Regions from separate parts of the Homo sapiens genome. Here all the other regions are linked to region 2. The links come from fine-mapping of genetic effects on gene expression. A gene starts in region 2. Each other region holds a variant in brackets. All regions are shown on one strand. Distances are between the middles of the regions.

Region 1 (7,376 bases), 24 kb after region 2:
TGCCTGAGCCCATCGGGGCCAGGCCTGAGGAAGTGTTTCTTGGGAGGATGGGATGACCCCCTGTTCCCAAGAGATGGCAGCACAGTGGAGGCCATGGTGGAAAAGGCCCTGCCATGGGGTCCTTGAGGGCCAGGACAGCCTGAGGGAGGGATGGTGGCCACTGCCCACAAGGGGCCTGGTGGGAACGGGTCCCAGGACAGACTCATAGCTAGACCCCGTTGGCGGCCTCTGTGTTGAACCAGAACTCATTAAACACCTCCTCTTGCTTCATCCTGGTGTGCCTCTTTCATGGCAGGGCCCTCAGCCACCCTGCTAGATGGTTAGGACCAAGGCTCTGTTCTCCTGGAAGCCAAGGTCGGCACATTGGTCTTGGGCTTCTCTTCTCTCTGGGTTTCTTGTTCACTAAGGAGTAACACAGAGGTCAGGCAGAGAATGGGGGTCTCGCAGGCTAGGGACCTCAGGGAGAGGCCTCTGTTGCCCTTTTCAGCAAGGCTGGAAATGGGATATGGGCAGGGGACGTCTTCTCTGACTTCACCCTAGACCTTCTGGCTCCAAATGGGGCCCATGGCCTTGAGCACCTGGGACCAGCTCTTTCCACCACAGGGCATTGGGCACTGGGCACTTTCTTATCGAGATAGTCACTCCCACGTCTGGTTCGTGATGGGCTTGGCCCTCCAGCTCAGCACAACTGCAAGAATGGATTTTGTATTCTCTAGACGGACACTGTCCAAGATGGTAGCCATTGGCCACATGCGACACATTTTTAATGAATTAAAATTAATCAAGACTGGAAATGTCGGCCAGGCCTGGTGGCTCATGCCTGTAATCCCAGCACTTTGGGAGGCCATAGAGGGCGGATGACTTGAGGTCAGGAGTTTAAGACCAGCCTGGCCAACATGGTGAAACCCATTTCTACTAAAAACACAAAAATTAGCTGGGCATGGTGGTGTGTTCCTGTAATCCCAGCTGCTTGGGAGGCTGAGGCAGGAGAATCGCTTGAACCCAGGAGGCAGAGATTGGAGTGAGCTGAGATCATGCCACTGCCCTCCAGTGGCCACCACATCCGGCAAGGCAGATGGGACCATTTCCTTCATCCAGAACGTTCTGTGGACATCACTGCTCTAGGTTCCTCCCTTATGGAGTCTCACAAGACTGTCTAGCCAGCAAGATCTCTTTTCCAACCAGGCCAGGAGCACCTCTCCACCCACTGCTGCTGGTCTGACCGCCTTCCTGGAAGTCCCTCTTGAGGCAGGCCCTGGAGTTAGAAGCTGGGCAGAGGCACCCACAGCCTTATCCTTTGCCAATCTCTGACTCAATGCCACGGCCACTGTAGTGAGCTGAACCACCTCCAGCAGTCCCCTGGCAGAAGCACCTGGAAAACATGCAATGGGAACCTTCACCCTGAGGCCAGGCCCTTCCCATGCTACCCAACAGTAGACAGGACACCCTGTGTTGTTGGCTGCACCGGGGTGCTGGGATCTGTGGATCCCTGGGGCCTGGAAGCCACTCTCAGCACATACAGCCACTGTGTTCCGAGGTCCAGTCAGCTGGCCGGGAAGGAATTCAACACAGCCAAGGACAGAGGTCCATATGATGACGGGTGGATGCTCGTGTGACTTTGCTGACCTTTTATGTTTTCTATGGGCAATAAAGGCCAAGAGAGCTCCCTGCTGTGTGTTTCTTGCGTCCTATGGGTTGGATGGGACCATGGAGAGTCGCCCACTTCTTGCCTCGGGGCTGGCAATGGCCTGAGCCTGCTGGGCTCACAAAGGGCAGGGGCTCCAGCCCTCTGCTTGGCTGCTGGCTGCAGGGCTCCACACCTTGGAGTGAGTCACTCAGCCTCTGTATCCCAAGCATGGAAATGAGATTGACCTGCCTCACAGGGTTGATGTGACTCTGCCCGCAGAAGGTTCGGCACGGAGGTGCCACAGCTCGTGTTCCTCCCCAGGCTTTGCTGTGGCTCTGGCTGAGTCACTGTTGGCCAGCCTGCAACCGAGTGGGAGCCCAGGGTGAGGACCGGAGGTCAGGAGTTAGAGCCCCGGTGGTCCCAGGCCTGCCTGAGAGGCTTCTGGGTGGGAGGATGGGAAGATGCATCTTCTAGAGTGTTCTAAGGCAAGACTCTGAACAGTGACCTCTTGGGGTGCAGAGAGCAGAGTGGGACTAGGTGGCAGAGGCCTGGGTTCAGACCCTAGCTCTGCCCTGAGCTGTGCAACCCCGGGCAGGTCACAAGGCCTCTCTGGGCCTTGGTGCCTCACTAAGATTCAGGGATCATTCTGGTCCTAGCCACTACTTCCTGGAGTTGCTTAAAGACAGGGCCCACCCCCACCTCTTGGCCAGTCTCCTGGGAGAGACATGGGTTGCAGGAACCACACCCTGTGCCCATGAGCAGGCCCCCAACTCAGCCCAGAGCTCTCTCCTCCACAGATGCGGCCCCCTTCCTGCCAGCCCCCTGCCCTTCCCTGTGGACGGCCCCAGGATGAACTAGGTAACGCAGTCGGGCGCTGCCCCCACATATGCTCTTCTCTGGCCCCTTCTCACTTCCTCCTGCACCAGGGGCGGCAGTGGCTGGACAGCAGGGCACCTGGGGGCTTAGGGTACCCCTTCTGCTCCAGCTTTGCCTGCTGGGCCTCTTCTTCCTCCGTGGGGAACGTGGCCCCATTTTCTTCTCCAGCTCCCCTTGAGCTTCTGTCCCAAGGCAGGCGGTGTCTGTGGGTTCCCTGGGCCTCCTGGCTGTGGCCTCCACTGCACCTGCCAGAAGCCATTGCCAGGTCCCGGCAGGGGGAAGGACAGCTCCCTGATGAGAAGAGCCCCTGGCTAGGTACCGGGAGAGCTGGTCTGAGTCCTAGCCCAGCCTTCCACTAGTTTTGTGACTCTGGGCCTGTTCTTTTCCCCCTCTGGACACCCCTAGCCAGTCTGCTAGAGGCCTCTAAACAGCTTTCCTGCTCGGTTTAGCAACCTTGAGTAGTTAAGGGCTCTTGGTACACAGAGGGGGGCCAGGGCAGGCCCAGCCCCAGGTCAGGAGGGCCAAGAGGTGCTCTTGATCATCCTGGGCGCATTAGTTGTCCTTTCTCTGGCTCCATCCCAGGAGAGCAGGGCAGACTGACCTCCCTCTGCCCCCAGACTCCTGCTTTCTCCTTCCTCTGGTGGTTGTGTGGCTTCGTGTCTCTGTGCTGTGTGATTGTGGGTCTTGGCTTCCCGCGCTTGTCAGGGAGGCTGGAGCAGAAGGTTTCTGAGATATCCACCTGGCCTCCCTCCCCTTCTGTGCCCTGCAGGGCTGCTGGGCCCAGAGCACCCTGGCCTCTGGGGCTGACTGGTGTCTTTTCTTGCATCCCTGCAGGGTGCAGCCCGGAATCCCGAGGATGTGGACCGGGAGCGGCGAGAACACGAACGCGAGGAGAGGATGGGGCAGCTACGGGGGTCCGCGACCCGAGCCCTGCCCCCTGGCCCACCCACGGGGGCCACTGCCAACCGGCTCCGCAGTGCCGCCGAGCCCGTGGCTTCCACGCCAGCCTCCCGCATCCAGCCGGCTGGTGAGCAGGGACTCAGGCAGTGGGCTGGGTTCAGGGTGGGTGGGGGGCTCTGTTTGTGCCTACTCTGAGGGTGGCTTCCCACTCTCCCTCCAGGCAATACTTCTCCCAGAGCGATCTCGCGGGTCGACCGGGAGAGGAAGGTGAGTATGAGGCTGCACAGGGGTGCGCCCGCCAACGTCTCCTCCTCAGACCTCACTGGGCGGCAAGAGGTCTCCCGGATCCCAGCCTCACAGGTGAGCTGCCCCCCTGCCAGTCCCTCTGGGCCTCAGAACTGAGTTAGAGACCCCCCAGTGGGAGGTCAGGCCGTGGCTCTGTTCTTCCCTTTCCATCGACGCTGCTTGCCTTGGAGTGAACCCCTTCTGT[A/T]GAGCCAGGACTTGGCCTCATTTAATCCTCTGAGGTCTGATGAGCCCTCTTGAGCAAAGTCATTCACCAAGGCTCAGGGCAGTAACATTCCCTGGCAAGTGGCACAGCTGGGCTCCAGTCCTCGCTGCCAGGGGCCCAGCCAGGGTGGGCAGCAGGGGCTCAGAGATGAGGTGTTGCTGCTCCCTGACATCAGGGAGCCCCCAGGAGCCCCTGTGAGCATTGGCAAGAGCATGGGGTGTAGGGGCAGTGAGGTCCCATCCTCTTTGGGGCTATGTTTGGATGGGGACACTTGGGAAGGGGGAATCTGTAGTTGCCCAGGGCAGGTGGCCTGGCAGAGGTGGGTGGGAGCCCTGCCCTCGTCCTCCTGCCTGTGGGCGAGGAGGGAGTCCTGCGAGAGAACCCTCATTGGCCATCTACTTAGGTAGCAGGTTTGCCTCCCTGGGCAACATTCTTAGCTACAGACAGGGACATCTTAGAGTCACTGGAATCACACAGGCCTTCCCTCAGCTTGAGGGGCTGCCTGGAGGTGGGGGTGGGGGTACACCTCCTCAGTGGGGAGAGACTTGCCAAATCTCTATCGCCAGCGGCTAAGGGACTTGACTTGAAGCTTGTACCTCCCTCTCTCTCCCTCCCCCTCTCTCCCTCCCCACCCTCAAAAGACAAGTGTGCCATTTGACCATCTCGGGAAGTGAGGAGAGCCCCCATTGGACCAGTGTTTGCTTAGGTGAGTCCATGACTGCTGCAGATGCAGCCAGCCCAGCCGACCTAGAAGCTCCCAGGGCCCCAGAAAGAGACCAATGTGTTGTGGAGGGGTGGGTGGCAGTGGCAGTGGCAGATGGTACCAGGCGCCCCAGAACTCTAAGGGGCCTCAAGTAGTTTAAAACCTCGGAGGCTGCCTGACTTGGGGCCAAGGGTTTCTATGCTCAGGCCTGACCCCTCATGGATTAGTTTCTGCTGGAAAAACTTTTTCTGCCCTCGGCCAGGTCTCTATCTCCTTCTGCCTTAACATATTTTGGAAGGTTGGTTCCCAGCAGAGACGGGGCCATGGGCTCACACTCTGACCTCTCCCACGGCATTAGCCCTGTCTCAGCCTCTGGGCTGTTACGCAAGTTAATTCCTGCACAAGACTCACAACAGGGCTGTGGAGGAAGCAAAGGAGCCCTTTTTATGCCTCTGTAGTAGGACTGAGAGAGGCCCTCTGGCCAGCGTGAGCCTGCTGGTTCTTCCCGGACTGTACCAGGCCTTGAGGCGGGGTATGGAAACGCCCCACTCTGGGGCCTGGCTTGGGGAAGGGGAGGCGGCAGGGGTTCTTTGGGCTTCTCGAGGGTATAATCTGAGCTCTCTGGGGAACGTGTGTCCATTTGTAGGCAGTAGTCCGACACGTCGGGGGACTCAACTTTACACTGGGACAATCTGTGTGTGGTCTGTTTTGTAGAAATTCATCCACACAAGAGAGTGGAGGCATGAACAGGGCTGGCCTTCCTCGGATCTCAGGCCCAGGAACCAAGCTGTCCATGGCGGGCTGGGCAGATATTTGGGGGTGGGGTGGGGAGATGCTCACCAGGAGGGCAGAGAAGGGAGAGAATCCGTTTCTGTCACATGAAGATGGATCTCCTAGCGTGCTGGGCCTTGAGCCAGGCTCTGGGGCCCAGAGGGAGATAGACCAAGGGACGAGAAGACAGGAGTTTGGGGGGCCAAGTGCAGTGGCTCGCACCTGTAATCCCAGCACTTCGGGAGGCCCAGACAGGTGGGTCACTTGAGGTCAGGAGTTCGAGACCAGCCTGGCCAACATGGTGAAAACCCATCTCTACTAAAAACACAAAAATTAGCCGGGTGTGGTGGCACACACCTGTAATCTCAGCTACTCGGGACGCTGAGACAGGAGAATTGCTTGAATCTGGGAGGTGGAGGTTGCAGTGAGCCGAGATCGTGCCACTGCACTCCAGCCTGGGGGACAGAGCGAGACTCCATCTCAAAAAAAAAAAAAAGTAGCCAGAGACAGCTGTGTACCTCACCTGTCTTTTCCCTTCTCCCTTCTAGTGTCTTCACTGTATTTTCTTTAAAAAAAAAAAAAAAAAAAAAAAGGCAAAAATAAACCACTCAAAAGAACAACAAAAAAACCCAGCACAAAACCGACGATGGAGTTTGTTTCTTTGATTTCTTTGCCAATGGCAAGAAGATGAGATGCCCTCAGCACTGAGGATTCTTGCCCCCTTGTGGTGCCCGCTGCCCCCAACCTTCAGGCTGCCAGATGCTCCCCTGACAACACCAGGCTACAGGAGCCAGACGCCAGGGCCTGCCCGGCCTCCTGTTCCTGCCCCCACCCACCACCTGCCTGGAGAGGAACGGGTCGGGTCCGTGTCGGAGAAGTGACAGGTCCCAGAGCCAAAGCCGGCCCTCAAGCATCATCAGGGAGTGGTGTAGTCAGTTGAAGGCAGTTCCCACCGAGTTTTCCGAGCCTCAGAATCCAGGAGATACGCACAGCCCCACCCACTCTGAGATGACAGTGGCTGACTTCCCGTGCTGGGCTTTTCCATTGTCCCCCTGGCCTCCAGGCTCCTCCTCTGCCTCTCCATGGAGTGGGTGGGGAGGTGGTGGGGGCCGGCGTCCCCTGCGTGTGTGTGTGTGTGTGTGTGTGTGGATGTATTGACCTGTGTTTCCCAAGACAGCAGGTGCCACGGCCCGCCCCGCCTGCCAGCCCGAATTCCCGTTCTCCTGTGTCTACTAACAAGGACATGGGGGTGGGCGGTGACCTCCGCATCCCTCAGAGCTCAGAGGGTCCTCGCTGCCACCGGTCCCCCCCTAGCCCGTCATCAGCCGGTGGCAGCTCCATCTTCCATTCCTGGTTTTAGGGCAGAATCCATGGAGACTGCTTCCAGAAGGCATCTGGCTCTGAGTTATAAATTACTTCCCTGGTCCTGACAGTCACCTGGGGTCCCCCCTCTCCCTGGTTCCACCTTTCTGAGGAGGAGCCTGGAGTCAGGGCTGGGTTTTGGATTAACCCATCCTTCCTAGTTAACACCTTTTTGTTTTTATTTTATTTTATTTTTGTTTGTTTTCTCCGTGTGTGTGTTTTCCTAATTTATTTACCTCTGTTTCCCCTTTTTCCTTTTTTTTTTTAATTAAAGAGCAAAGCTTTTTATTACTTTGTAATTTAAAAAACTGAAAAAAAAAAAACTGAAGAACTTTGGGGGGAATTTTGTACTTTTTTCCTGTGTAAATATTGGACTTTTTTGAGCTTTATCGTGGTTGTTAATTTGAAGTAATAAAGTAGAAAAGATAAAGTGATGCAGGCAGCCCTTTGTCCACCTCTGTGCCCTTAGGGCCTCTCCCTGCAGACCCGGAAGTGGGTCTTGCTGGGAGCAGCAGGAGTCAGTGAGGAACAAGCCCTCGCCCTGAAGGCAGGTGTGGCTGGGGCCACTTTCAGAACACTTGGGCTGTGGTTGGGATGTCCGGGGGCTTTGAAAACACGAGTGCACACAG
Region 2 (7,200 bases):
AACTCCTGAGCTCAAGCAACGCCTGCCTCTGCCTCCCAAAGTTCTGGGATTACAGGTGTGAGGCACCGCCTGTGGCCCAGCGCCAGGATTTTAAATTGGGAGACTGGGCCCAGACGTGGTGGCTCACACCTGTAATCCCAGCTTTTTGGGAGGCTGAGGCGGACGGATCACCTGAGGTCAGGAGTTTAAGACCAGCCTGGGTAACATGGTGACACCTCCATCTCTACTAAAAATACAAAAATTAGCCAGGTATGGTGGTGGACGCCTGTAATCCCAGCTACTCTGGAGGCTGAGGCAGGAGAATTGCTTGAACCCGGGAGGCGGAGGTTGCAGTGAGCCGAGATCGGGCCACTGCATTCCAGCCTGGGAGACAGAGCCAGACTCTGTCTCAAAAAATAAATAAATAAATAAACTGGGAGACCAGGAGGGCCTACCTCTGAAGGGGACTTGAGAAAGGTGAGAGGTGAGGGGGGTTGGTGCTCTGCGGGAAGAGCGCACCAGGCAGTGGAAACAGCCCCTGCCAAGGCCCTGAGGCCAGAGGTTCATTCCATGGGAGGCCAGTGAGGCTACAGGGCTGTGAGCAAGAAGAAAACTTACAGGAGCTGAGGTCAGGAGAGCCAGGTGCGGGGAGTGGAGGACAGATCCTGGAGGGCCGTTTTCAGGCCAGCCCTTGATGTTTAGTAAATCTATGAGTCCTTAGTCAAGACTGAGATTCCTGGGGCAGGTACTGAAATCTTTCTGGGTTTATCTGCAGCCATATCGTCATTATCTGGGAATTCCAGGGCTGTCCTTGGGATCCCAGCCCAGTGCTCCTGCGTGCCAAGTGATCTTGAAGGGTCTGAAATAGGGAGCAGGTAAAAAATGTCAGTTTGGGAACACAGTGGCTCACACTTGTAATCACAGCACTTTGGGAGGGCGAGGCAGAAGGGTCACTTGAGCCCAGGAGTTTCAGACCAGTCTGGGCAACACAGTAAGACCCCATCTCTATAAAAAATTTAAAAATTAGCTGGGTGTGGTGGTGCATGCCTGTAGTCCCAGCTACTTGGAAGGCTGAGGCAGGAGGATCGCTTGAGCCCAGGAATTTGAGGCTACAGCGAGGTATGATCCTGCCACTGCACTCCAGCCTGGGTGACAGAATGAGCCTCTAAAAAAAAGACAAAAGCCAGTTTGGAAAGGTGTTGTGAGAGCCACTATTCCTGAACCAATGCAGAGCAGCTGAAACCCAGGGTGGGCCCCTTGGGAGCTGGCAATTCACCCCACACCTATTCTAGCCTGATTTCATCTTCTTGTTGGCTTGCAGAGAAGGTAGCTAGGGGAACTTTGCCACACCCTTGGGTTTTTTGTTTTGTTTTGTTTTTTATTTATTTTTTTGAGACGGAGTCTCGCTCTGTCGCCCAAGCTAGAGTGCAATGGTACGATCTCGGCTCACTGCAACCTCCGCCTCCTGGGTTCAAGTGATTCTCCTGCCTCAGCCTCCCGAGTGGCTGGGATTACAGGTGCCCGCCATCGTGCCCAGCTAATTTTTTGTATTTTTAGTAGAAACGGGGTTTCACCGTGTTGGCCAGGCTGGTCTTGAACTCCTGACCTCAGGTGATCACCCGCCTTGGCCTCTGAAGTGCTGGGATTACAGGGGCGTGCCCGGCCCCACCGTTGGGTTTTAAAGTTAGGAGTTAAATCTGAGAGGAATCACTGTGAACCAAGTCGGAGAGAGAAGTCAGGCTGTGGGGCTGCTGGAACACGTAAGGTTTTGTTTTTCACTTTGGACCAGTCTCCCCTCCTCAGCTGGGTTTTGTGTCATGGTTTGCCTTCCCTTATAGCTTCACTGCAAAGCTCTTTGGAAGGGCCCACACACAGGTCTTCCAGGGATAGGAAGGACAAGGACTTGGGCCCACAACTCAGGCAGTGGACAACAGCATGTCCTTCCAATGGCAAGGCAGGGAGGCTCCCTAGCAGGCCTGGGGATGAGCCGGGCTCCTCAGCCTGGCTGGCCCAGGGAACTGAGCAGGATCTTAACTGGGGCAGGGGGTGGGGTGGGGGTGCTGGGGTGGGAGGTGTGGTTACAAGTCCTGAATGCAGAGGGGAGAACGTGAACGTGCTGCAGTCAGACCTGGCGATCTGGCTGGGTTAGGAAGGGGCAGGGGGTCTGTTCCAGCCAGGCCCAGTTTAAGGGAGAGGTTGATCTGTGCCCTTAGGCAAGCACTGGGAGGAGCCTGATTCCTTCTCTGAAAGAATACAGTGTAATCTGTTGTTGTTTGAGAGGATTAAATGAGATAACAAATAACCTCCTCTCCCAGGGCTGGTTGCCTTGAAAGTGCTGAAGAAGAGGAGGGCTTTGGGAAGCAGGGCCCAGGTTGGAAGGTTAGGGGTGGTAAGGACTGGAGGACACAGGGGCAGACTTCACCCCCTGCTCAATTGTGCCCAGGCCTCTCTGCCTGGGCTCATGTGAGGAAAGAAACAAAATGGGTGGCGGTGGGGTGGCGCTCAGGCCGGCTGAGAACTTGGGCCCAGAGTTACCGGATCTCCTAATGCCCCCAGAGAAACAGGGAATCTGGATCTGAAATATGAAATCTTCCAGTTTTAAAACTTTGGGGAGTGGCCAGGCATGGTGGCTCACGCCTATAATCCCAGCAGTTTGGGAGGCCGAGGCAGGCGGATCACTTGAGGTCAGGAGTTCCAGCCCAGCCTGGCCAACCCCGTCTCTACTAAAAATACTGTGTGGTCCTGGGCAAAAATTAGCCAGGTGTGGTGGTGCACATCTGTAATTCCAGCTATTCAGGAGGGAGGCTGAGGCTGGAGAATCACTTGAACCCAGGAGGCAGAGGTTGCAGTGAGCCGATATTGAGCCACTGCACTCCAGCCTGAGCCACACAGCGAGACTCTATCTCAAAACCAACAAAAACAAAAAGCAAAAAAAAAAAAAAAAACTTTGGGGATTAATTAACAAAACAACAACAGAAAGCACCGCGCAGGCCAAGTAAAGCCCACCACCTGGCTGGTGACCCCCTGCTCTGGCAAAGGTGTCACTGAAGGCAGGCCCTCCTGGGAGGAGGCTTCTCACTCTCCTGCTCTTGGAAATGGGCTCTAGATAGACCCAGTTTCCTGGTGATCGCTGGGAGAACAGAGCTGTCCTGTTGGGCTTTGTGGTCCTGGGCAAAGCCCTTCCCCTCTCTGGGCCAGTTTCCTGGCCGGCGAAAGGACTTAGTCTGTGGGGCTCCTGCCCGTTTGGACACGTGTGTGACTCAGTCCCTCAGCCTCGAGGAGGGAAGATACGGCTATTATAGAAGTGACTCCTCCCAGGAACTGTGCTTCCGGGATTGGACGCAGGGCCTCAGGCATTTTGCGTGTCCACAGTCACAACTGTGTGAATATAGGTGTGTCATAATTGGAAGCTTTGCATGGCTCAGTGTAAATATCATCACTTTAATGACTTTGTTCTGCAACCTTTCATCGCGGCTCTGCATGCCGGTAGAAGCTTTTATTAATTCTGTGACCTGGGGAGGACAGGGTCCTTCCTCCCATTTGCTGTTTAAGGAAACCCAAGCTCAGAGCTGGGAGGTGGCTTGGCTAAACGTGCACCACTCGGAGCCCAGACTCAAGTGTCGGTGCTTTGGTACTTGTGGCACCCCTCCTTCAACAGGGGAGAATGAGGTTGGGATCTGAGGGGTCCTCTCTGTGCCCATCACAGTTTGAGCTTCAGGGAAAAGAAGAAGAGGTCTTTGCCCTTCGTTTTTCCACGGGAGGAGAATGTATGAGCCCAGGCTACCTTTCTGGGCCTTGTGTCGACATCCCTAGCTGTCTCCTCAAATCTCTTGCCCTGAATCAACCTGGCCTGTGTTCTCTGCGGCACTCGGAACCTGGAGGCGGACTGAGCCTCCAGCAGTCTAACATCTTTTGCAGTGTCGTGAATAGCCGCCTGTTTTCGCAGGGGCCCAGTGCTCTGCCTGGAGAGGAGAGAGATCCTGGCAGGCGGGGAGAGGAGACTTTGGGTCTAGACCCTCCCCTCCCATCCCCTCACCTCCGCTTTTTGTGCGCCCTCCTCTTCCCTCTGTCCCCCCCGCACCCCGTCTTTTCCACCTGTGCCCTGGACTGCATTAGGGTGTCAGTATCTGTGTGCTCCCCCACCCCCACGCGTAAGCCCGCGCGCCTGCACTGAGGCTGGGGAACTGCGTCTCGCAGCTGCGGCCCCCAGCGCGGAGGGCGCGGGCCCTTTAAATCCTCCGGGGCGGCGGCGGCGGGCCGGGGATGACATCAGCGGGCGGGCCCGGGGCTCAATGGGAGCCGGCGGGCGCGCGCGGTGCGAGAGCGCGCGAGCCGGCGGCGGGGGCGGGCGGGCGGGCAGGAGGCCGGGAGGAGGGAGGCGGCGGCGGCGGCGGCGGCGGCGGCGAGAGCCCAGAGCCAGAGCCCGGCCGGGGCCGAGCGGAGCGCGGCGGCGGCGGCGGCGGCGGCGGCTGGGCCGGGAGAGGCTGGCGCGCCGGGCGGCTCCGCGAATCCTCCGGCATCCGCCCCGGCGGGCCGCCCCCGCCCGCGGCAGCCCCCCGAGCAGTGGCCCGGCATCGGCGCCTTCCCGGCGGGGTAAATATCGGGGGGCCGCGGGCCCGCGGAAGGGTGCAAACCTGGGGGGAATCGGGCTCCCTCAGCCTCTTTGTTTTTGCTGGAGAGGGAGGGAAGGGAGGGCAGACACACGCGCGTTCGCGCTGGGGTGTAGGGGGGGCAGCCCGGGCGCCGCCCGCTCGGCCCGGCGAGGACAAAGGCGCGGCTGGGGACGAGGAGGAGGGGGCCTGTTATTTTGCAGGCTCGCGGGGGAGGCCCCCCGGCCGGCCTGCCTCCGCTTCCCCCCGCTGGGCCCTCCGAGGCCCCGGCCGGCCAGGCGGCCACCCCGGCTGTGATTTGGGGACGCTGAGGGAGGGGGCTTGGGGTGCTGGGCGCCGGATACTGTTGATTCGGGCCCGCGTAGCGTTTCATCGGACAATCACCGGCGCCCCCTGCTCTCCCGGCCCCGGCGCCCGGACCTGGGGGTTCGCAAGGCTGCGCCCGCTCGTTGGATGACGGGCGTTTGGGGGTCCTAAGGTGAAGAGGTGTGTGGTCACCAGGCCACTGATTTGTTTTTCTTTGTGGAGAGAAAGAAAGGGGTGGGGGTTATTTGTCGGATCGGATTCTCCCATTTTTGTGTGAGAGATTGATGTCTTGCAAGTCTCTAAGGAACGCAAAACAGTGTCTGGGTGTCGTTAGAGGATTCCCAAGCTCTTGTTAATACCCTAACTCGAAGTGGGGTGAGCCCCCTCCCCAACTTTTCCCTTAGTTTTCTTGCATATTTTCTTCCTGGCATAGCCTCCTTCCTGGAGAAGGATTTGGAGAGAGGAGAAGGGGACACAAGTGTCTCAAGTTGCTTCCAAGCAATGCCTGTGTTTGGGTCTCCTTTGCCTTCGTTTCTATGATGTCCCTTCAATTTTTATTTTAATCGTCCGAGGGACAAGGGCCCCGGCTCAGGGGTAGGCGATGGTGTTCGGGGAGTAAGAAGCACTGCCCGTGTGCCATGCTGGTTGGTAGTTTGTCTAATTTTTTTAACCTGCTGAAACTCTTGAACCTTTATATCCACTTTTCCCCCCACTTTGTTTATCTCCCCCCCTCCCCCATGGGAGAAGCAGCAAAAGAACTGAAAAGCCTCTCCATTCCTGAATGAAGCTTTTCTGCTCTCCTCTGGGAGGCTTTTTGGGTATTGGTGCCGGGACAGTCTAGGCTCCCCCAGGGACCTTGGACCCCTGGGGTGTTGGGGAGCGACTGGGGGTCTGGGTGGCTGGCACATAGCAGTCAGGGGGTCCTGAAGGGCTTGCCCCTTCCCGCTCTCGTTCTCTGCAGACAGCCGGTGAGTGGGGAGAGACTGGGGGGTCATGTGCAGTATATTTATGTAAGACACCCAGACAGAGGGCACGGGTATTTATATAACCCGGCGTGGGTATTTATGTAATATAGGATGCGGGTATATTTATGTTCCTTTCCTAACCTGCGGGTTTCCTGGCTGCCATGTGTGGTCTCTGAATTGGTGTTGGCAGAAAGTGGACTGAGGTGTTGGGGGGGGGTTGCGTGCACACCCCCCCTTACCCCCCAACAGGGCTCACTGTGTGTGCCTGCTTTTCTTTCTTCCGTTGGAGTGTACACACTCGGGAAGCTGGACGTGTGTGTACGTGGGATGTGTGGCGTGTGGGTTTCCTGCAAACGTGGACTGTGTTCCCCTGGCAGCGTGGCACCTCAGCTGAGACAGGCCAAGCATATGGGCAGCGGCCCTTGATTGAGAGCCCAGAGTTTGGCCAGCTCTGGTGGAGGTCCCTGCCTCGTGGTTATTGGTGGAGGGCTGGTGAGCTCCTTGGGAGCCAGGTGCCGGGGTTCCCTGTCTCTCCTGGGATCTGCCCACTGTCCCTGGAATCCATCTCCCTCCCAGGCTGGCCTGGTTGTTGGGGGCAGCACTTGGCACGGGCAAGGGGCTGATCTTCTGTGCCAGCACAGCTGCTCTGCAGTCTTCCTGTTTTGCCCTGTTTGTGAGTGTGGGAGACCACCAGGTGGGACAGCCGGAGCCCTGTCCTCGGCGAGGCTGTACCATCTGCAGGGTGGTGTGGGACAGGTGGCATGGCCTCTGTGAGCCTGAGTACCCTGTCTGTGAAAGGAGTTCCCTCTTGCTAGTCCTTGATGCTGGTCCTCTTGTAAACACCCCTCCCCCTGTTTACTGCAGTCCCTGGTCCCTGTCCCCACGGCAGCACTGCCTCCAGGCCTTCAGTTTCCTCCTCTGCTGACCAGGAACAGGGTGTCCGGACTTTTGCCCCAGGCCAGAGCAGAGGGGTCCCTCCTCTGCCCCAGGCCAGAGCAGAGGGCTCCCCCCTGGCCCTGAGGAAGGAGAGAAGCTGCTCACATCAGAACTCCTCCTCCCACCCATCCGGGGCAGGCGGCTAAAACCCTGGCTCAGTCCCCTTTGTTGTTCTATGAGGGCCCTCTTAGGAGACCCTCCTAGTCTTAAAGGACGCCAGCTCCAAACAGTTTATCCAAGCGGCTATGGGCCTCCGTGTGAGGTCTTGGTGTCATGACGTAGAGATGGGGAGGTGGCTGGAAGGTGGATGGTCGAGGGCATTCTTTTCTGCCTTCCCCCCAGTAGGGGATGCGACTTTCTCCTGCAAGGCGTGCTGGGCACTGGCGAGGTCTGGCCTCTGGGCA
Region 3 (7,376 bases), 81 kb before region 2:
CGATTCTCCTGCCTCAGCTTCCCGAGTAGCTGGGACTATAGGCAAGCACCACCACACCCAGCTAATTTTTGTATTTTTAGTAGAGATGTGGTTTCACCATGTTGGCCAGGATGGTCTTGATCTCTTGACCTCGTGATCTGCCCACCTCGGCCTCCCAAAGTGCTGGGATTACAGGCTCGAGCCACCGCGCCCGGCTGGGCTTGTTTTCTTGTCCCATTCTCAGGCAGAGCTCTCTCTGGCTACGGTTCCAGTGCTGTGGGGCCTGGATGGGCAGCTGTGACAACAGAAGGTCCACAGCCCTTGGCCTGTGTTCAGGGGCCCCGGGGCCAGGGGGAGCCCGGCAGTCTCTCCTGTGCTCATTCTGAGTCTCTCTGAATCAGCCCTTACCTTCAAGGCCTGCCTCCTCCAGGCAGCCTTCCTAACTGCTTCAGCCAGAAGGGGAAGGGGAGGACATGCTCACCACCCGCCGGGCTTACTAAATACCTGCTGCTGGGTCCAGCGCTATGACATTAAAATAAATAAATAAATAAAAAATAAAAATAAACTCTAGTTTAATCCTTCCAACCCTTATGGAAGGAGGCATTTCACACCCACAGGTGCGGCAACTGAGCCTCAGAAAGGTGAAGAGACTTGCCCAAGGCCGCCCAAAGAATCAGCCTCCATGTGGGCTCTAAGTCTGCCCTGTTCCTGTCTTTGGGACTCCCGCCCGGAGAGCCCGAGCCCCTCAGCAGCAAAGTCCCAGGGACTGTGGAGGGACTGGGATAGCTGGACTCCTGTCGGCAGGGATGCTCATCACTGGGTGACCTTGGTGACATGGCCCGCTCTCCTTCCTCCCTGGAACTCGATGATCTCATCTATCAAATAGTGCCTGGCCTGCGACCCAGGGAAGCTGGGAGCATGTCTTGTCTATACCTCCAGTCCCTCTGGGCCCCTCTCCCAGCCTCCACACACTTCTCCAGCTCAGAGGGTGCCAAACAAGCTCAGCACCCCCTGCTGCTCCCCACCAGGCCCCTTCCAGTCCCACAGTCCCCCATTTCCTGGGCCAGAGTCCTGAGCAAACCCTTGGAGTCTTCCTTTTCTTGCCCCCACATGCAGTCACCAGGTCCTTTAGCTTCTCCCAACAAAGGGCCCCAGCTGGCATCTGTCTCCACCAAGCTTTGGGCTCCCCACAGGTGGGCTCAGGTTGACTCAGCTCAGAGAAAGTTAACTGCGGGACAGGTGCACAGCTCAGCAGCAGGAGGTGGCAGAAGGTGCTGACCCTCCTCGTCAGCTCTGCCTGAGCTGTTTGGACAATTGTGAAAAATGAGGTGTAGCTGATGTTTGCTGCATTGAACCAAGGTGAAGTGGGGCTTTTCTGCCCCTTCTCCAAGTACCATGTGCAGAGCTTCTCTTTTGGTTCCATTCTTTGTTTTTTTTGCTGGCATCTAGTAGCACCTGACTCCTTTAGAGATGGCCTAGGAAGGGAGTGATGGCAAAGCTGGATTTCTTGTGGGTGGAGCTAAGCATAGGAAGACCAACGTTCGATTTTCAATTTTCACTTCATGCAGTTATGAGTTTCTAGCTTTTATTACAAAACCAAATGTTTGCAGTGTTCTCCTGTTACTTTTGGAGTTTCCATATTTTAATTGTTTGAACTATACATGCTTTCCAAATAAATGGGAGGTATGAGTCTCACATTCTAAGGGAAGAATGTGTCTCAGGGAAGCCCTCCCGGACGAATTCAGATCCCTCTATGTTCTTCTGAAAACACAGTATGTATTTGCAACCCAGCAGTCAGTCACTGGCAGAATTTTGCAACGATTTCCCAGTTTCGTTGGCACGACTCCAGGACAAGGTTCTTTGTAATTCTTTGCTCAAACATAAGGAGGATCACATATAAATAAAACTCTTAGCGGATAGATCAGTGAATATAATCATCTTTCAATTTTAAAAGCTACAACATAATAAGGCACTTTTTTTTTTTTGAGGGAGGCAGCGAAACAGTAACAAATCATGATGCTATAATGTGAACAAAGTGGTAGCTTTGGAGGGCACAGGGGGAAAACAAGCACAACCGTTTTTGCTCAGAAAATAATTCAGTAGCAACAAGGTCTGAGAGCCAGGAATCTCCTTGTTCTTACTGAAACGATTATTTGTCAAAATATTTGATTGTTTCCCTATTCCCCCTGAAAAGTTTGGACTTTTCTTTTTGCTCGATTTTGACACTGGAATTTTTAACTGTCAGTGCTATTGTGTTTACAGCATTCAAGTTCTCAGAGTTCAAAGGTTATCCATTAACATGTAGAATGAGGCTACACTTAAAGGCTCAACCTGGTTGCACTTGTTCATAGTTTCTTTGTTGTGTAGCAAGGCTCATAGTCATTTGTTTTCATAAAGTTAAATGAAGTTTCTTGTTTATGAAGTGTTTTTGGACTGTGTTTTAGAATGTGACAATAAGATTAAAAAATATATTTTAAAGATAGGTATTCATCTTTTGTCAGAAAAGGACTCCTAATACTAAAAGTGATCAATATCAGTGGACTTGAGTGAAAAAAAATTCACCCAATTTAGTTTTTTAGTGCTGGCCTAAGAATCTACCGGCACTGCTAATTAATTGTGAGTAATTGATTGGCTTCCTTTTTAAAAAAGACTAACCAGACCATATGGGGGGTTAGTAGTTATATATAAAATGACAGCAAAACATGACACTTGGCAAATTCTTCCCCTTTGCTGAGCTGTCTTCTCAAATTCCTTTTCCTATTTATTAAGATTGCATTGCTCACCAGCTCCGGATCGTTTCTGTAGTGCGTTCTTTCTTTTGATTTAGGAAATAGATATTTTAAATGCTTTTCTTGATGTGTTTTAAAGTTTTTTCATTTTGGATATGCCGAAGGCCAGTAAAAAAACAAATATTTGGCTATTTTGTTGGTAGCGACTTGCATAGATCCATTTCACATTTGCATTAGTTTGCATTTTGGGGTAGAAAAATTGTGGATATGTTTGTTATGTCTGTGGTTCCTCGAGGCTTACTTAAAATGGGGAAATATCACAGGCCTTAGGAATCAGGATTTTTTTTGTCCTTTTTTTCAGTAAGAAAAAAAAAACAGTTGGGAAACGATTTAAATGAGTTGTGCGTAGGGAGGAGGGGAAAGGGTAGCGGTTTTTTGTTTTTTTTTGTCCCCGGTTTCCTCCAAATGGATTTCTATCAAAACCAAGTAGATTCTTGGAACCTAGTCTAAGTTTAGAAATCTCAAGTTAGAATAGCGCAAGCCCAGTCCTTTCAGAAAAAAAAAAATCAGAACAATTAAATAGCTTTCTGAAGATACTCATTTAAAAACTTTATCTTCTCGACCTTCCTCACGCTTGAAGAAAATCTGAGGTGTTTTTCGCGCACAGCTGCCTTCTAACCCGCGAGCAACGGCGTTAAGGTTTTGTTTGTAATTCGGGGTGACCCAGGAGTTCGGGCCGCGGGCCCCTCCCCTCGCCCGGGCACACCTTGCAGAGGAGGGGGCGGCGGGGACGGGACCCGGGTCTGCGCCTGCGCACACCCTCGCGGCCCCCCCCGCCCCCCCCGCCGGGTACCTGTCACGGCTACCGCCGCGGCGCTCGCCCGCCACGTTAAATCGGATGGCGGGAGTAGGGGTATGGGGCGGGGGGCGCGGGGAGGGTGGCACGGCGCGTGCGTGCGCGGGAGTCGCCGAGCGATAACTGGGAGTGCGCGCGCTCGCCGCTCGCTCGCGT[C/T]CCGGAGGCGGAGTCTGTGGCGGGGGGCGGAGCGGGGGCGGGCCTATGCTAGTCACGTGGGCGCGGGGGCGGGGTGGGGCGGGGCGGGGCGTCTCCGAGCGGCGGGCCGAGGGAGGGCGCAGCAGCTGCTCCCTGAACACTTTCTGACCCAACAGTCCCCCAGCGCCGGACGCGCCGCGCCCTGGCGGCTCTAGGGACCCCCCCCGCGCCTGCACTTAGCCCCGCGCCCGAGGTGAGCCCGGCCCCTAAATCCTCCGGGCGGGGGTGGGGGTGCGGGACGCTCCTTTTTTGTTGGGGGTCTTGGAGGCGCGAAGGCACTAGGCGCCTCGGCAGATGGCTGCACCCCTCGCTTGCGGCTCCCCGTGTCTTTTGGGGGGCCGGGTGCGGGCGCGGAATCCGGGAGGTGTCCGCACAAAAGGCCGAGAAAACTGCGCGAGGCCTCCCTCCCTCCGCCCTCCCCGCCCCCTCCCCTCCGCGCCCGCTCCTCCTCTTTCAAACCCGGCCGGCCCGAGTGGAGTCAGCTCAGTCCCGGCAGCCGCCGCGCGAGGAAATGGCCGAGGGGCCGGAGCCACAGGTAAAGGGGGGCGCCCCCCGCCCGCGCCAGCCGGGGCGCCCGCCTGGTCCTGCGGAGGCTCCCGCGCCGCCCCCGAGGCGCCCGGCTCTCGTTGTCTTGTCCCCCCCCAGGATGACCTCAGTTCCCCGTCTCAGCTTTCTAGCTGCTCTTTCTAGGGCGCCCCCTCCCCAGCCGGCTCCTGCGCTTCCGCTGGCGGGAAGGTGCGGGCGATCCCGGGCTGCATCCGCTCTTGGCCGTCACACTCACGCCGCACGATTCAGAAGGGCTTGGGGTGCGGGGTTCCCTGAATCTCCGCCGGGAGCGGGGGTCCGGGGGTCTGCGGGGGTGGGCGGTGGGGGGCTGTTCCGAAAAGTTGGGTCGCCCCGCGGGGCGGGTCTCCCAATTTGCCCAGTCGGCCCTTGGGGCGCGGGCGGAGGGGGGACGTTGGCGTAGGGTCCCCCGCGATACCCCGGGAAGGGCCGGGGGAAGTTGGAAATGGCCAAAACAATGCGTCGGGACAGGCTTCCCCCGTAAACAATGGCCGGGACGGTCCACACGGGCCAGGCGGAGGGCGCGTCTAAGGGACCGCGGGAGGGGCTGGGCCTCTCCGCGGACCCCGAGGTGCGCCGGGTGACTCCCTCGGGTGCCCAAAAATCTGTCCCCGGGAGTCCTGGGGCGCCTGCTTATCCCTGAGCAGGGATGCACGGGGCTGCGTTTCCTGGATGTGTGCGATAAGGTGGCTTTTTTTTCCCTCCTCTAATTTTAAAGATTTTTCTTAAGTCTTAATGTTCTATAAACACTTAAAGAATATCTTTACAACTCAATTGTAGTGGAACACCCAAAGGCAGCTGGAAGCAGAACTGGGAACTCTAAAGGGCAGGAAGGATTGAAATGCTAGCCCAAAAGTGCTGCTGCTTTTTTTTTTTTTCTTTTCTTTTTTTAAAGGGAAGTTTCTGCCAGGAGGTGCCAAGTGGTGAAACCGCTCAGTTTCAGGCACAGCCCTCTTGTCTCTCGATTTGGCCCCGACTGCGAGCCGGACGGGATGGTGGAGGGGCGGAGGGCGCTGCTGGGGGCCTGGGAGGCTGGATTTAGGGCTGCCTGGGCGGTACCGCCCGAGGGGCAAGACCCGACAGCGGGGCGCGCGCCGCAACGTAAGTCCCGGGGATTTGAGAAGACGTTCAGGGCCTGGGTTGGAATCCACATTTTGGGATTCTGGGTAGGGCCACCGAAGACGGGAAGGCGCATTCTTGGGCGGATGGGGTGAGCAGGCGGGGAGTTTTCCGCCAGGTTTAGTTACAGGAGCTAGAAAAGGCCACTTCTGGGACCCTGGCATCTGGGCCACCCTGAGAGCCCCAGAAACTTTTTTTTCTTTTTCTTTCCCCCCCACCCCCCAGAAAAGGATAGTCATTTCAGGTTTAAGGCTTTGGTGTATTGTTCCACTTCGAAATTCCTTGAGCCTCAGTTTATCTTCCTGAATCAGCCTATGGTGCTTGCAGCGGAGAAAGTAAATGGCGGTTGCAGTGGTCCACTGGCCAGTTTGGGGGTCCTGTATAATTGGCCACTGTGTGTGTCAGGCCTCTGAGCCCAGGCCAGGCCATTGCTCACACAAAGCTTGTTTGGTGGTCTCTTCACACGGACGTGTATGAAATTTGGTGCCGTGACCCCAACCCTTAAGAAGGTTGTTTGTAATTCTCCCCACCCTTGAGAATGTACTTTGTGAGATCCACCCCTGCCCACCAGAGAACAACCCCCTTTGACTGTAATTTTCCATTACCTTCCCAAATCCTATAAAATGGCCCCACCCCATCTCCCTTTGCTGACTCTTTTCGGACTCAGCCCGCCTGCACCCAGGTGAAATAAACAGCCATGTTGCTCACACAAAGCCTGTTTGGTGGTCTCTTCACACGGACGCATATGAAAGTGTGTCCTACAGCGTAGCTAGGTTTCTTAGTTTTCTAGATCGTTTGGAAGCATTAAGCTGTATGTTTTAAGAAGCCTAGGTCTGATTTAGTTCAGATTGATTCAATAATGTCTTCATCGCTTTTGAGTTGGTTGAATGACTTGACATGAGATTAAGCTCAACAAAAGAAAAGGTGAGGTAGCAACAGCTGCCGTCCAGGCCTGGCCACTAGGTAGGGGTCTTAGGAGGCCTTTTACCTTCTCTTTTGTATATGTCAAGAGGGACATTTACAATGTTCTTATTTTACTGTACTTCTTTCCCCTGAAGTGGATGTTCTTTCTTGATTGATATCAAACAAGACTTAAAATGCTAAGTTTTATGATACTTAGACAATGAGTAATAGATGTAGTTTCTAAAAGCCTTTATGTGTCTGCAGTGACAAGTGCAGAGGAATAACCTCATTGCTTTTTGTCTGAAAATATAACAGGCAAGCCACTAGTTTGTGCTTACTTAATGTGTGCTAAGAACTTTTAAGGTATGTCCTTAATGGTAGATAACTTTTTTCCTTCTGAGAAGTCATATTTATTTTAGATATTGTTTTGTTCAATATTCTGGAGACTAATAGTGTTTCATTTTGTTTCTTAACCCTGATGTTGCTGCCATTTTTAATCGGTTATATTTAAATTCAAGAGGCCGTAAGTTATTTAAAATACAGTTGTCAGTAGTTACAAGGCAGATTTATCATTTATTTTAATTGTTAGAATAGGATTAATAATCTGTTTGGAATTTTAATTATTTGGCATGATGAGGAAAGCTAGTCCTTTAGAATTGTCTTTATTTGCCTACAGAAGGAGGAAGTAGAGGACAAGATACGACTTTTATTGGTGAAGGACACACACTTTTTTCTTTAGTGTCCCACTCTTTTAATCCTTTTGTCTTCACATTTTTCTAACGCTTTGCAGTTTGACCTTTGCTGTTTTTTAATAACTTGTGAGATCGAAGTTTAGCAGTTGTGTTGGGTTCCTATTCCCTTTCACTTCTTACTCAAAAAAAGGAACTAATACACCACTTAGAAAAAATTTGTAGAAAACTTTTCTCCCCTTTACCCTGAGGAATCTATTTTGGTAACAGGTCAAAATTTTTTTCCACGTAGTAGGGGAGGAAGGAGGAGCAGTGAAGGTTTTGACTTTGACTGCCTTTACT
Region 4 (7,376 bases), 41 kb before region 2:
AAAATCAAATGTTAAAATTCTGTAATTATTAGTAAAGTGTTTTATTAGTACCTTATACATCTGGAATTACTCTTTAATTCTGGAAACTATTTATTTAGACTACATAAGAGTAAGATTTCATACTATATGATATAGATTTATGCAATATAATTGTTTCCTTTTGAATTAATAATATTTGAATTTGAGCTGCAAGTTTTTAAAAAAGTACTTCAAAGACTAATTCACCTTCATAGATTAGGCAAATAGTCGAATCAATTTATGGAGAATGTATTTGGAATATGTAACAGCAAGTGGCAGGAGGTACTTTAGAGTTCAAGACTCATGTGCCCATCACTCTGCTCGAAGCACCCATAAAGATGAAATCATGGACTTGTTGAAAATGTCACTGATGAAAAATCTTGGTCTTTTAAGAGCTTATGTTACTCATGCTTTCATTTGGTTTTTATTAATAAATTCTTTAGAATTATCCAGATTAATGAGGGTTTATTTTTTATGAGAAGTTGGTATAAACTTCTTATGAAATTCTCACATTTTAAGAAGAGTTTGTAAACAGACACAGGTGATTTTAATTCAGTTTTACTTTTTCTCTCTTGAGGTGTTGGTCTGATGTGTCTACTATAAAAGGCCATGATAATATCTTCTGAAGTGGTTTGGTGAGAATTTTGTTTATTAAGAACTGCTTCTATTGGGTGAAAACAGTGATTTTTCTGAGATTCTAAGGCATTACAGTTTTTCCTGCCACTGGGCAGCTTAATACTAAATAATAACATTTTGGTACCTGATCAGTGGCTTAAATATAGTATAGCTATAGGGACAAATGCCCCTTTATCTTTGCATTTATTTATTTATTTATTTATTTATTTATTTATTTATTTATTTATTTATTTTAGACTATTTGGAGTTTTCCTCGTCTTACTGGATGTCACTCTCGTCCTTGCCGACCTAATTTTCACTGACAGCAAACTTTATATTCCTTTGGAGTATCGTTCTATTTCTCTAGCTATTGCCTTATTTTTTCTCATGGATGTTCTTCTTCGAGTATTTGTAGAAGGGTAAGTTTGATTATTTTTATAATAAGAACCACTTTGGGAGGCTGAGGTGGGAGGATCCCAAGGTCAGGAGTTCGAGACAATCCTGGCCAACATGGTGAAACCCCGTCTCTACTAAAAATACAAAAATTAGCTGGGTGTGGTGGTGGTTGCCTGTAATCCCAGCTGCTTGGGAGGCTGAGGCAGGAGAATCATTTGAACCTGGGAGGCAGAAGTTGCATTGAGCCGAGATCATGCCATTGCACTCTAGCCTGGGTGACAGGGTGAGACTCCGTCTCAAAAGAAAAAAAAAAAAAAGCATTTAAAAATAATTAACAGGAGCATTCACTGCAAACTGACTTAAGAGCCTTTGGGCCTTATGAGAACATTGGTGGTAGTCTGGCAGTACCTCCCCATGGCCTGTGTTTGAGGTGGCCCTGGATTGATGCTCCTCTGTCTTTGGACAGGGGTGGAAATAGTGGGAGGGACTGCATCTTGTGGTTTGAGTGACAGCTCAGCCATAGCACAATAAAACACTACGTAGACTTTTACAGTTTTTGATCTAGGCCCTGATTCCCAGACAGCACCTTTGGATCCACCTGGAGGCTAGGAGAACTTGCCATCCTGAAGGGAAGGACACAGGCCTGGCTGTTTTTACCATGTGATGACTGTAGAGCCCCAGGGCCTTCAGCAAACTCATGCAATAGCTAAGGAGTGGTTACAGCAGGTCTTGGGCAAGACCCCGTGCTGTGCTGGCCTCAGGTCTGACCCAATGCAGTCACAGTAGTGGTGGCCACAGAGGTGCTTATGTCACTCAACCCCAAGCTTTAGGTGCCTCAGAACAGAGAGAGAGACTCTGTTTGTTTGGGAGAAAGTAAGGGAAGAAAACAAGAGTCTCTTTTTGGTAATGCAGAGAATTATCCTGGATCTTGTCCAAGACCATTAAGGCAGTACCGCTATGAGTCTGCAAGAACCAGAGTTTAGGAGGCTTGGGGTGCCCCCTAAAGCAGATAGAGATTAGATCACAGTATCCAAGTTCTTTCAAGTATCTGGAAAGCCTTCCCAAGAAAGATGGGTACAAACAAGCCCTGACAGTGAAAACTACAATAAATACAGTGAAAACTACAATCAATACCTAACTCTTCAATGCCCAGACACCAAAGAACATCTGCTAGCATCAACACTATCCAGGAAAACATGACCTCACCAAATGAACTAAATAAGACACCAGGGGCCAATCCTGTAGAAACAGAGATATGTGACCTTTCAGACAAAGAAATCAAAATAGCTGTGTTGAGGAAACTCAAAGAAATTCAAGATAACACAGGGAAGGAATTCATAATTCTATTAGATAAGTTTAACAAAGAGATGGAAATAATTTAAAAGAATCAAGCAGAAATTCTGGAGCCAAAAAATGTAATTGGCATGCCAAAGAATGCATTAGAGTCTTTTAATAGCAGAATTGATAAACCAGAAGAAAGAATTAATGAGCTTGAAGACAGGCTATTTCAAAATACATAGAGGAGACAAAGGAAAGAATAAAAAACAATGACGCATGCCTACAGGATCTAGAAAATAGCCTCAAAAGGACAAATCTAAGTGGTATTGGCCTTAAAGAGGAGGTGGGGAGTGTAGAAAGTGTATTCAAAGGGATAGTAACGGAACGTCCCAAACCTACAGAAAGATATCAATATCCAAGTACAAGAAAGTTATAAAACACCGAGCAGATGTAACTCAAAGAAGACTACCTCAAGGGATTTAATAATCACAGTCCCAAAGATCAAGGATAAAGAAAGGATCTTAAAAGCAGCAAGAGAAAAGAAACCAATAATATACAATGGAGCTACAATATATCTGGCAGCAGACTCTTTAGTAGAAACGTTTCAGGCCAGGAGAGAGTGGCATGACATATTGAAAGTGCTGAAGGAAAAAAACATTTACCCTAGAACAGTGTATCCAGTGAAAATATCCTTCAAAGTGAAGGGGAAATAAACACTTTTCCACACAAAAGCTGAGGGATTTTGTCAACACCAGACCTGTCCTAGAAGAAATGCTAAAGGGAGTATTTCAATCAGAAAGATAAGGACATTAATGAGCAATAAGTAACAACCTGAAGGTATAAAACTCACTGGTAATAGTAGGTATACAGAAAAATGCAGAATGTTATAACACTGTAACTATGATGTATAAACTACTCTTACTCTAAGTAGACTAAACTATGAGCCAATCAAAAATATTAACTACAACTTTTCAAGACATAGATGGTATAATAAGATAGAAATAACAAAAAGTTAAAAAATAGGGAGACAAAGTTAAGTTGTAGAGTTTTTATTAGTTTTCTTTTTACTTGTTTATGAAAACTTATAAGATTAAAATAATGGATTATAAGATAGTATTTACAAGCCTCATGGTAACCTCAAACCAAAAAACATAACAATGGATACACGAAAAATAAAAAACAAGAAACTAAATCATATCACCAGAGAAAATTACCTTCACTAATGAAAGACAGGAATGAAAGAAGGAAGAGAAGACCCCAAAACAACCAGAAAACAAATAACAAAATGGCAGGAGTAAGTCCTTACTTATCAATAATAACATTGAGTGTCAGTAGACTAAACTTTTCAATCAAAAGATAGAGTGGATGAATGGATGAAAGAACAAGACCCATCCAGGTGTGGTGGCTCACGCCTGTAATCCCAGCAGTTTGGGAGGCCAAGGCAGGCAGATCATGAGGTCAAGAGCTAGAGACCATCCTGGCAAACATGGTGAAACCCTGTCTCTACTAAAAATACAAAAATTAGCAGGGTGTGGTGGTGCGCACCTGTAGTCCCAGCTACTCAGGAGGCTGAGGCAGGAGAATCACTTGAACCCGGGAGGCAGAGGTTGCAGTGAGCCGAGATGGTGCCACTGCACTCCAGTCTGGTGACAGAGCAAGACTCCAGCTCAAAAATAAATAAATAAATAAATAAATAAAATAAAATAAAAAGACCCATTGCTCTGTTGCCTACAGGAAACACTCTTCTCCCATAAAGACACATGTAGGCTGGAAGTGGTGTCT[C/A]ACTCCTATAATCCCAGCACTTTGGGAGGCAGAGGCGGGTGGTTTACTGGAGGTCAGGAGTTCAAGACCAGCCTGGCCAATATGGTGAAACCGCGTCTCTACTAAAAATACAAAAAATTCGTCGGTCATGGTGGCGGTCGCCTGTGATCCCAGCTATCACCACTGAAACTCCTTTCAGTTTTCAGAAACAAACTGTAGGTGACCAGAAGCGTTATCCGCTAAGCGCACCACTTTAAGTCCCTGACTTAGAGCCACAAGTGTTCTGTTTACCTATTGTTACTACTCTTTTCACTCTGGCAAACAGATTAATTCACACAAAATTTTATTTGAATGGCTTTTCAATTTATCATAACAATGGTTACTAAAAAGTGAGAGAATATGTACTAAGGGTTGAGTACAAGTTAGTGCTAGTAGAAAATAAGAGCCTTAATAGAGAAAAAACTAGTTCTAATCAAAGACTGGATTTAGTCAATGATGTTTATATTTTTAGCTTACATTTATAGCTTCAGAAACATTTTGTTACTGATATTCCTATCATAATTATTGTTTCAAAAATTCTCTAGTCCCTAACCTTCCTTTTTTCATTAAACAACTGTTTTAAAATTAAACTGTTATCTTGAAGGTTTTTTTTTCTTTTGAGACTGAGTTTTGCTCCTGTAGCCCAGGCTGGAGTGTAATGGCACAATCTCGGCTCACTGCAACCTCCAGCTACCAGGTTCAAGTGATTCTCCTGCCTCAGCCTCCCAAGTATCTGGGATTACAGGCATGAACCACCACGCCCAGCTAATTTTTTGTATTTTTAGTAGAGATGGGGTTTCACTGTGTCGGCCAGGCTGGTCTTGAACTCCTGACCTCAAGTGATCTGCCCGCCTTGGCCTCCCAAAGTGCTGGGATTACAGGCATGAGCCTGGGTCCTCAGCCTTGAAGATCTTATAGAAAAAAGCAACTACTGTGTTATAGAATAACAAACTTTAAATAGAAACAAAGACATTTTAATACAATCTTAATTACTCTGTGAACATGTAGATTAACCTTTAAATATAGGCTTTTTTTTTTCCTCAAAACAGGATAAGAGTTATCTTCTCATTTTTAATTTCCAAGTTGAAACTACAGATGACTATGTTTACTGAATCACATTTCAGGATCTTAAATCTTCGGACAATTATGTGTTCTTTTTTTCTTCACATTTTTGGAACTCCCTCAGATTTAACATCAATTAAATAACCTAGCTAAAACCTTGAACTCTTTTCAAAACAGTAAGTGGTAGAATAACAATAATTTCATACTCATAGTTTTAAAAGAATTAAACAACTGGATTTGACAGACATTTTCACAATTTTTTGTTGTCATGCAATTTTGGATACAGCCATTCTGCATGGTTTCACAAAGTTGGCATAGAGAAATATAAGTTTCCTAAGTTGAAACGGAAGATTATAAAAGAGGGAAGGAGAATGAGAGTAAGAGACTGGTTAAAGATGCAAAGGATTTCCACTTCTTCATTGTTATGTAAATGTGTCTGCTTTTTAAAAAGCACAATCACTGAAAAATCTATTTGGATAATGCCTTCACTCTATGCAACTATATCTGACTACAGGCTGAGCACCCTTAATCCAAAAATTCTGAAATGCTCCAAAATGTGAAATTTTTTGAGTGCCAACATGATGCCAAAAGTGGAAAATTCCACACCCGACCTTCTGTGACAGGTTTGCAGTGAAAATGCAGGTATACAACATGAAGATGAGGTCAGGGAGTCATCTAAGACAAAAACCATTGTTAATAAGGCAGATGACTCCATAGGGAACTTTTTTTTTTTTTTTTTTTTTTTGAGACAGAGTGCAGCTCAGTCGCCCAGGCTGGAGTGCAGTGGTATGATCTCAGCTCACTGCAACCTCTGAGTCCCAGGTTCAAGCGATTCTCCTGCCTCAGCCTCCCGAGTAGCTGGGACTACAGGCATGCATCACCACGCCCGGCTAATTTTTGTATTTTTAGTAGAGACGGGGTTTCACCATGTTGGTCAGGATGTTCTCAATCTCTTAACCTAGTGATCCGCCCGCCTCTGCCTCCCAAAGTGCTGGGATGACAGGTGTGAGCCACCGCGCCAGGCCCATAGGAAACATTTTTAAAAGCCGGCCGGCAGAATGTCTCCTTAGCCTTAACGGACCCGCTTCCTGGTCCCTCAGCTGCTTCTGATGTTTCTTCTTGCCTAAGAAAAAATAAAATGTGGTGTACAGTAAACTTTTAATGAAAACACAGCATCCCAGGAGACTGAACGCCTGCCGCTGTGTGTTTCCACTGTTCAACAGCTGACACAGGGATTCTGATGCCGCTGCTGTGCTGCTTAGTTTCTCTGAACACTTTTTTTTTTTAACTGTACTAATGGTATGTCATTTTTTCTATTGTTAAGCACTCATGTGTGAATAAGTGTAAGAAAATGATGGCTTATCAGGAGCATATAAATTCAGAGTCAGGAGCTAGGCACGGTGGTTCACGCCTATAATCCCAGCACTTTGGGAGGCCGAGGTGGGTGGATCACCTGAGGTCAGCAGTTCAAGACCAGCCTGGCCAACATGGTGAAACCCCGTCTCTACTAAAAATACAAAAGTCAGCTGGGCATAGTGGCAGGCGCCTGTAATCCCAGCTACTTGGGAGGCTGAGACAGGAGAATCGCTTAAACTTGGGAGGCAGTGGTTACAGTGAGCCGAGTTCGCACCATTGCCCTCCAGCCTGGGTGACAAGAGAGGACGACGTGTTAGATCACTTTCAAATCCACACCAAGTGGAGACTCTGCTGGATGGGCGGAGCGCAGGCTGGCTCCAGGCCTTCCTGTTCCTGGCTCCGCCACCACCGGGCACGCTCAATTTCTTCCCCTCACATTCACCCAGAATGGGTCTATGTCCAGCCTGGTGGGGACCCTGCCTGGGCTGGGGGCTTGTCTCCCCACCAAAGAGGAGATATAGCAGGTACAGGCACCAGCACATGGCGGGGCTCAGAATATCCCCGCTGGATTGAATATGTGACTTCAGTCCATAGAATGAGAGGCTCCTGGCCGGGCGCAGTGGCTCATGCCTGTAATCCCAGCACTTTCGGAGGCTGACGTGGGCAGATCACGAGATCAAGAGATCAAGACCATCCTGGCCAACATGGTGAAACCCTGTCTCTACTAAAAATACAAAAATACAAAAATTAGCTGGGTGTGGTGACACGCGCCTGTAGTCCCAGCTACTCGGGAGGCTGAGGCAGGAGAATCACTTGAACCCAGGAGGCGGAGGTTGCACTGAGCCAAGATG

Which allele goes with the higher level. Positions count from the first base shown, and alleles are read on the strand shown. Sizes are in standard deviations (SD) of each study's normalised expression. Not every link is listed here.
With allele T in place of A in region 1, the expression in fibroblasts of the gene that starts at base 4,299 in region 2 is lower (small effect, 0.21 SD a copy in GTEx).

Evidence for each region. PIP is the estimated chance that this variant, and not a neighbour inherited with it, causes the effect.
Region 1: its variant is fine-mapped to the expression of CSNK1E in fibroblasts (GTEx, PIP above 0.99).
Region 3: its variant is fine-mapped to the expression of CSNK1E in whole blood (TOPMed, PIP above 0.99).
Region 4: its variant is fine-mapped to the expression of CSNK1E in whole blood (TOPMed, PIP above 0.99).

What each region holds. Positions count from the first base shown.
Region 1 is chr22:38,290,496-38,297,871 of GRCh38, reverse strand. TPTEP2-CSNK1E (TPTEP2-CSNK1E readthrough) reads left to right here. Exons shown (of 15, transcript NM_001289912.2): 12 at 3,338-3,530; 13 at 3,624-3,763; 14 at 4,553-4,617; 15 at 5,934-7,181. The coding sequence ends at 4,585. It overlaps CSNK1E (casein kinase 1 epsilon), which reads left to right. Exons shown (of 11, transcript NM_152221.3): 8 at 3,338-3,530; 9 at 3,624-3,763; 10 at 4,553-4,617; 11 at 5,934-7,181. The coding sequence ends at 4,585. Among named protein-coding and RNA genes, the nearest start is that of TMEM184B, 21 kb to the right of the region's middle. RefSeq lists an enhancer at 7,200-7,376. The variant A/T (reference allele first, on the strand shown) is at 3,894.
Region 2 is chr22:38,314,532-38,321,731 of GRCh38, reverse strand. CSNK1E (casein kinase 1 epsilon) reads left to right here and starts at 4,299. Exons shown (of 11, transcript NM_152221.3): 1 at 4,299-4,572. All of the region lies in intron 5 of TPTEP2-CSNK1E (TPTEP2-CSNK1E readthrough), which reads left to right. RefSeq lists enhancers at 1,955-2,859, 6,661-6,710, 6,731-6,900, 6,971-7,030 and a silencer at 4,582-4,971.
Region 3 is chr22:38,395,356-38,402,731 of GRCh38, reverse strand. It overlaps TPTEP2-CSNK1E (TPTEP2-CSNK1E readthrough), which reads left to right and starts at 3,817. Exons shown (of 15, transcript NM_001289912.2): 1 at 3,817-4,294. It also overlaps the pseudogene TPTEP2. RefSeq lists a silencer at 3,760-4,039 and an enhancer at 4,305-5,088. The variant C/T (reference allele first, on the strand shown) is at 3,721.
Region 4 is chr22:38,355,075-38,362,450 of GRCh38, reverse strand. TPTEP2-CSNK1E (TPTEP2-CSNK1E readthrough) reads left to right here. Exons shown (of 15, transcript NM_001289912.2): 4 at 891-1,052. It also overlaps the pseudogene TPTEP2. Among named protein-coding and RNA genes, the nearest start is that of TPTEP2-CSNK1E, 40 kb to the left of the region's middle. The variant C/A (reference allele first, on the strand shown) is at 4,090.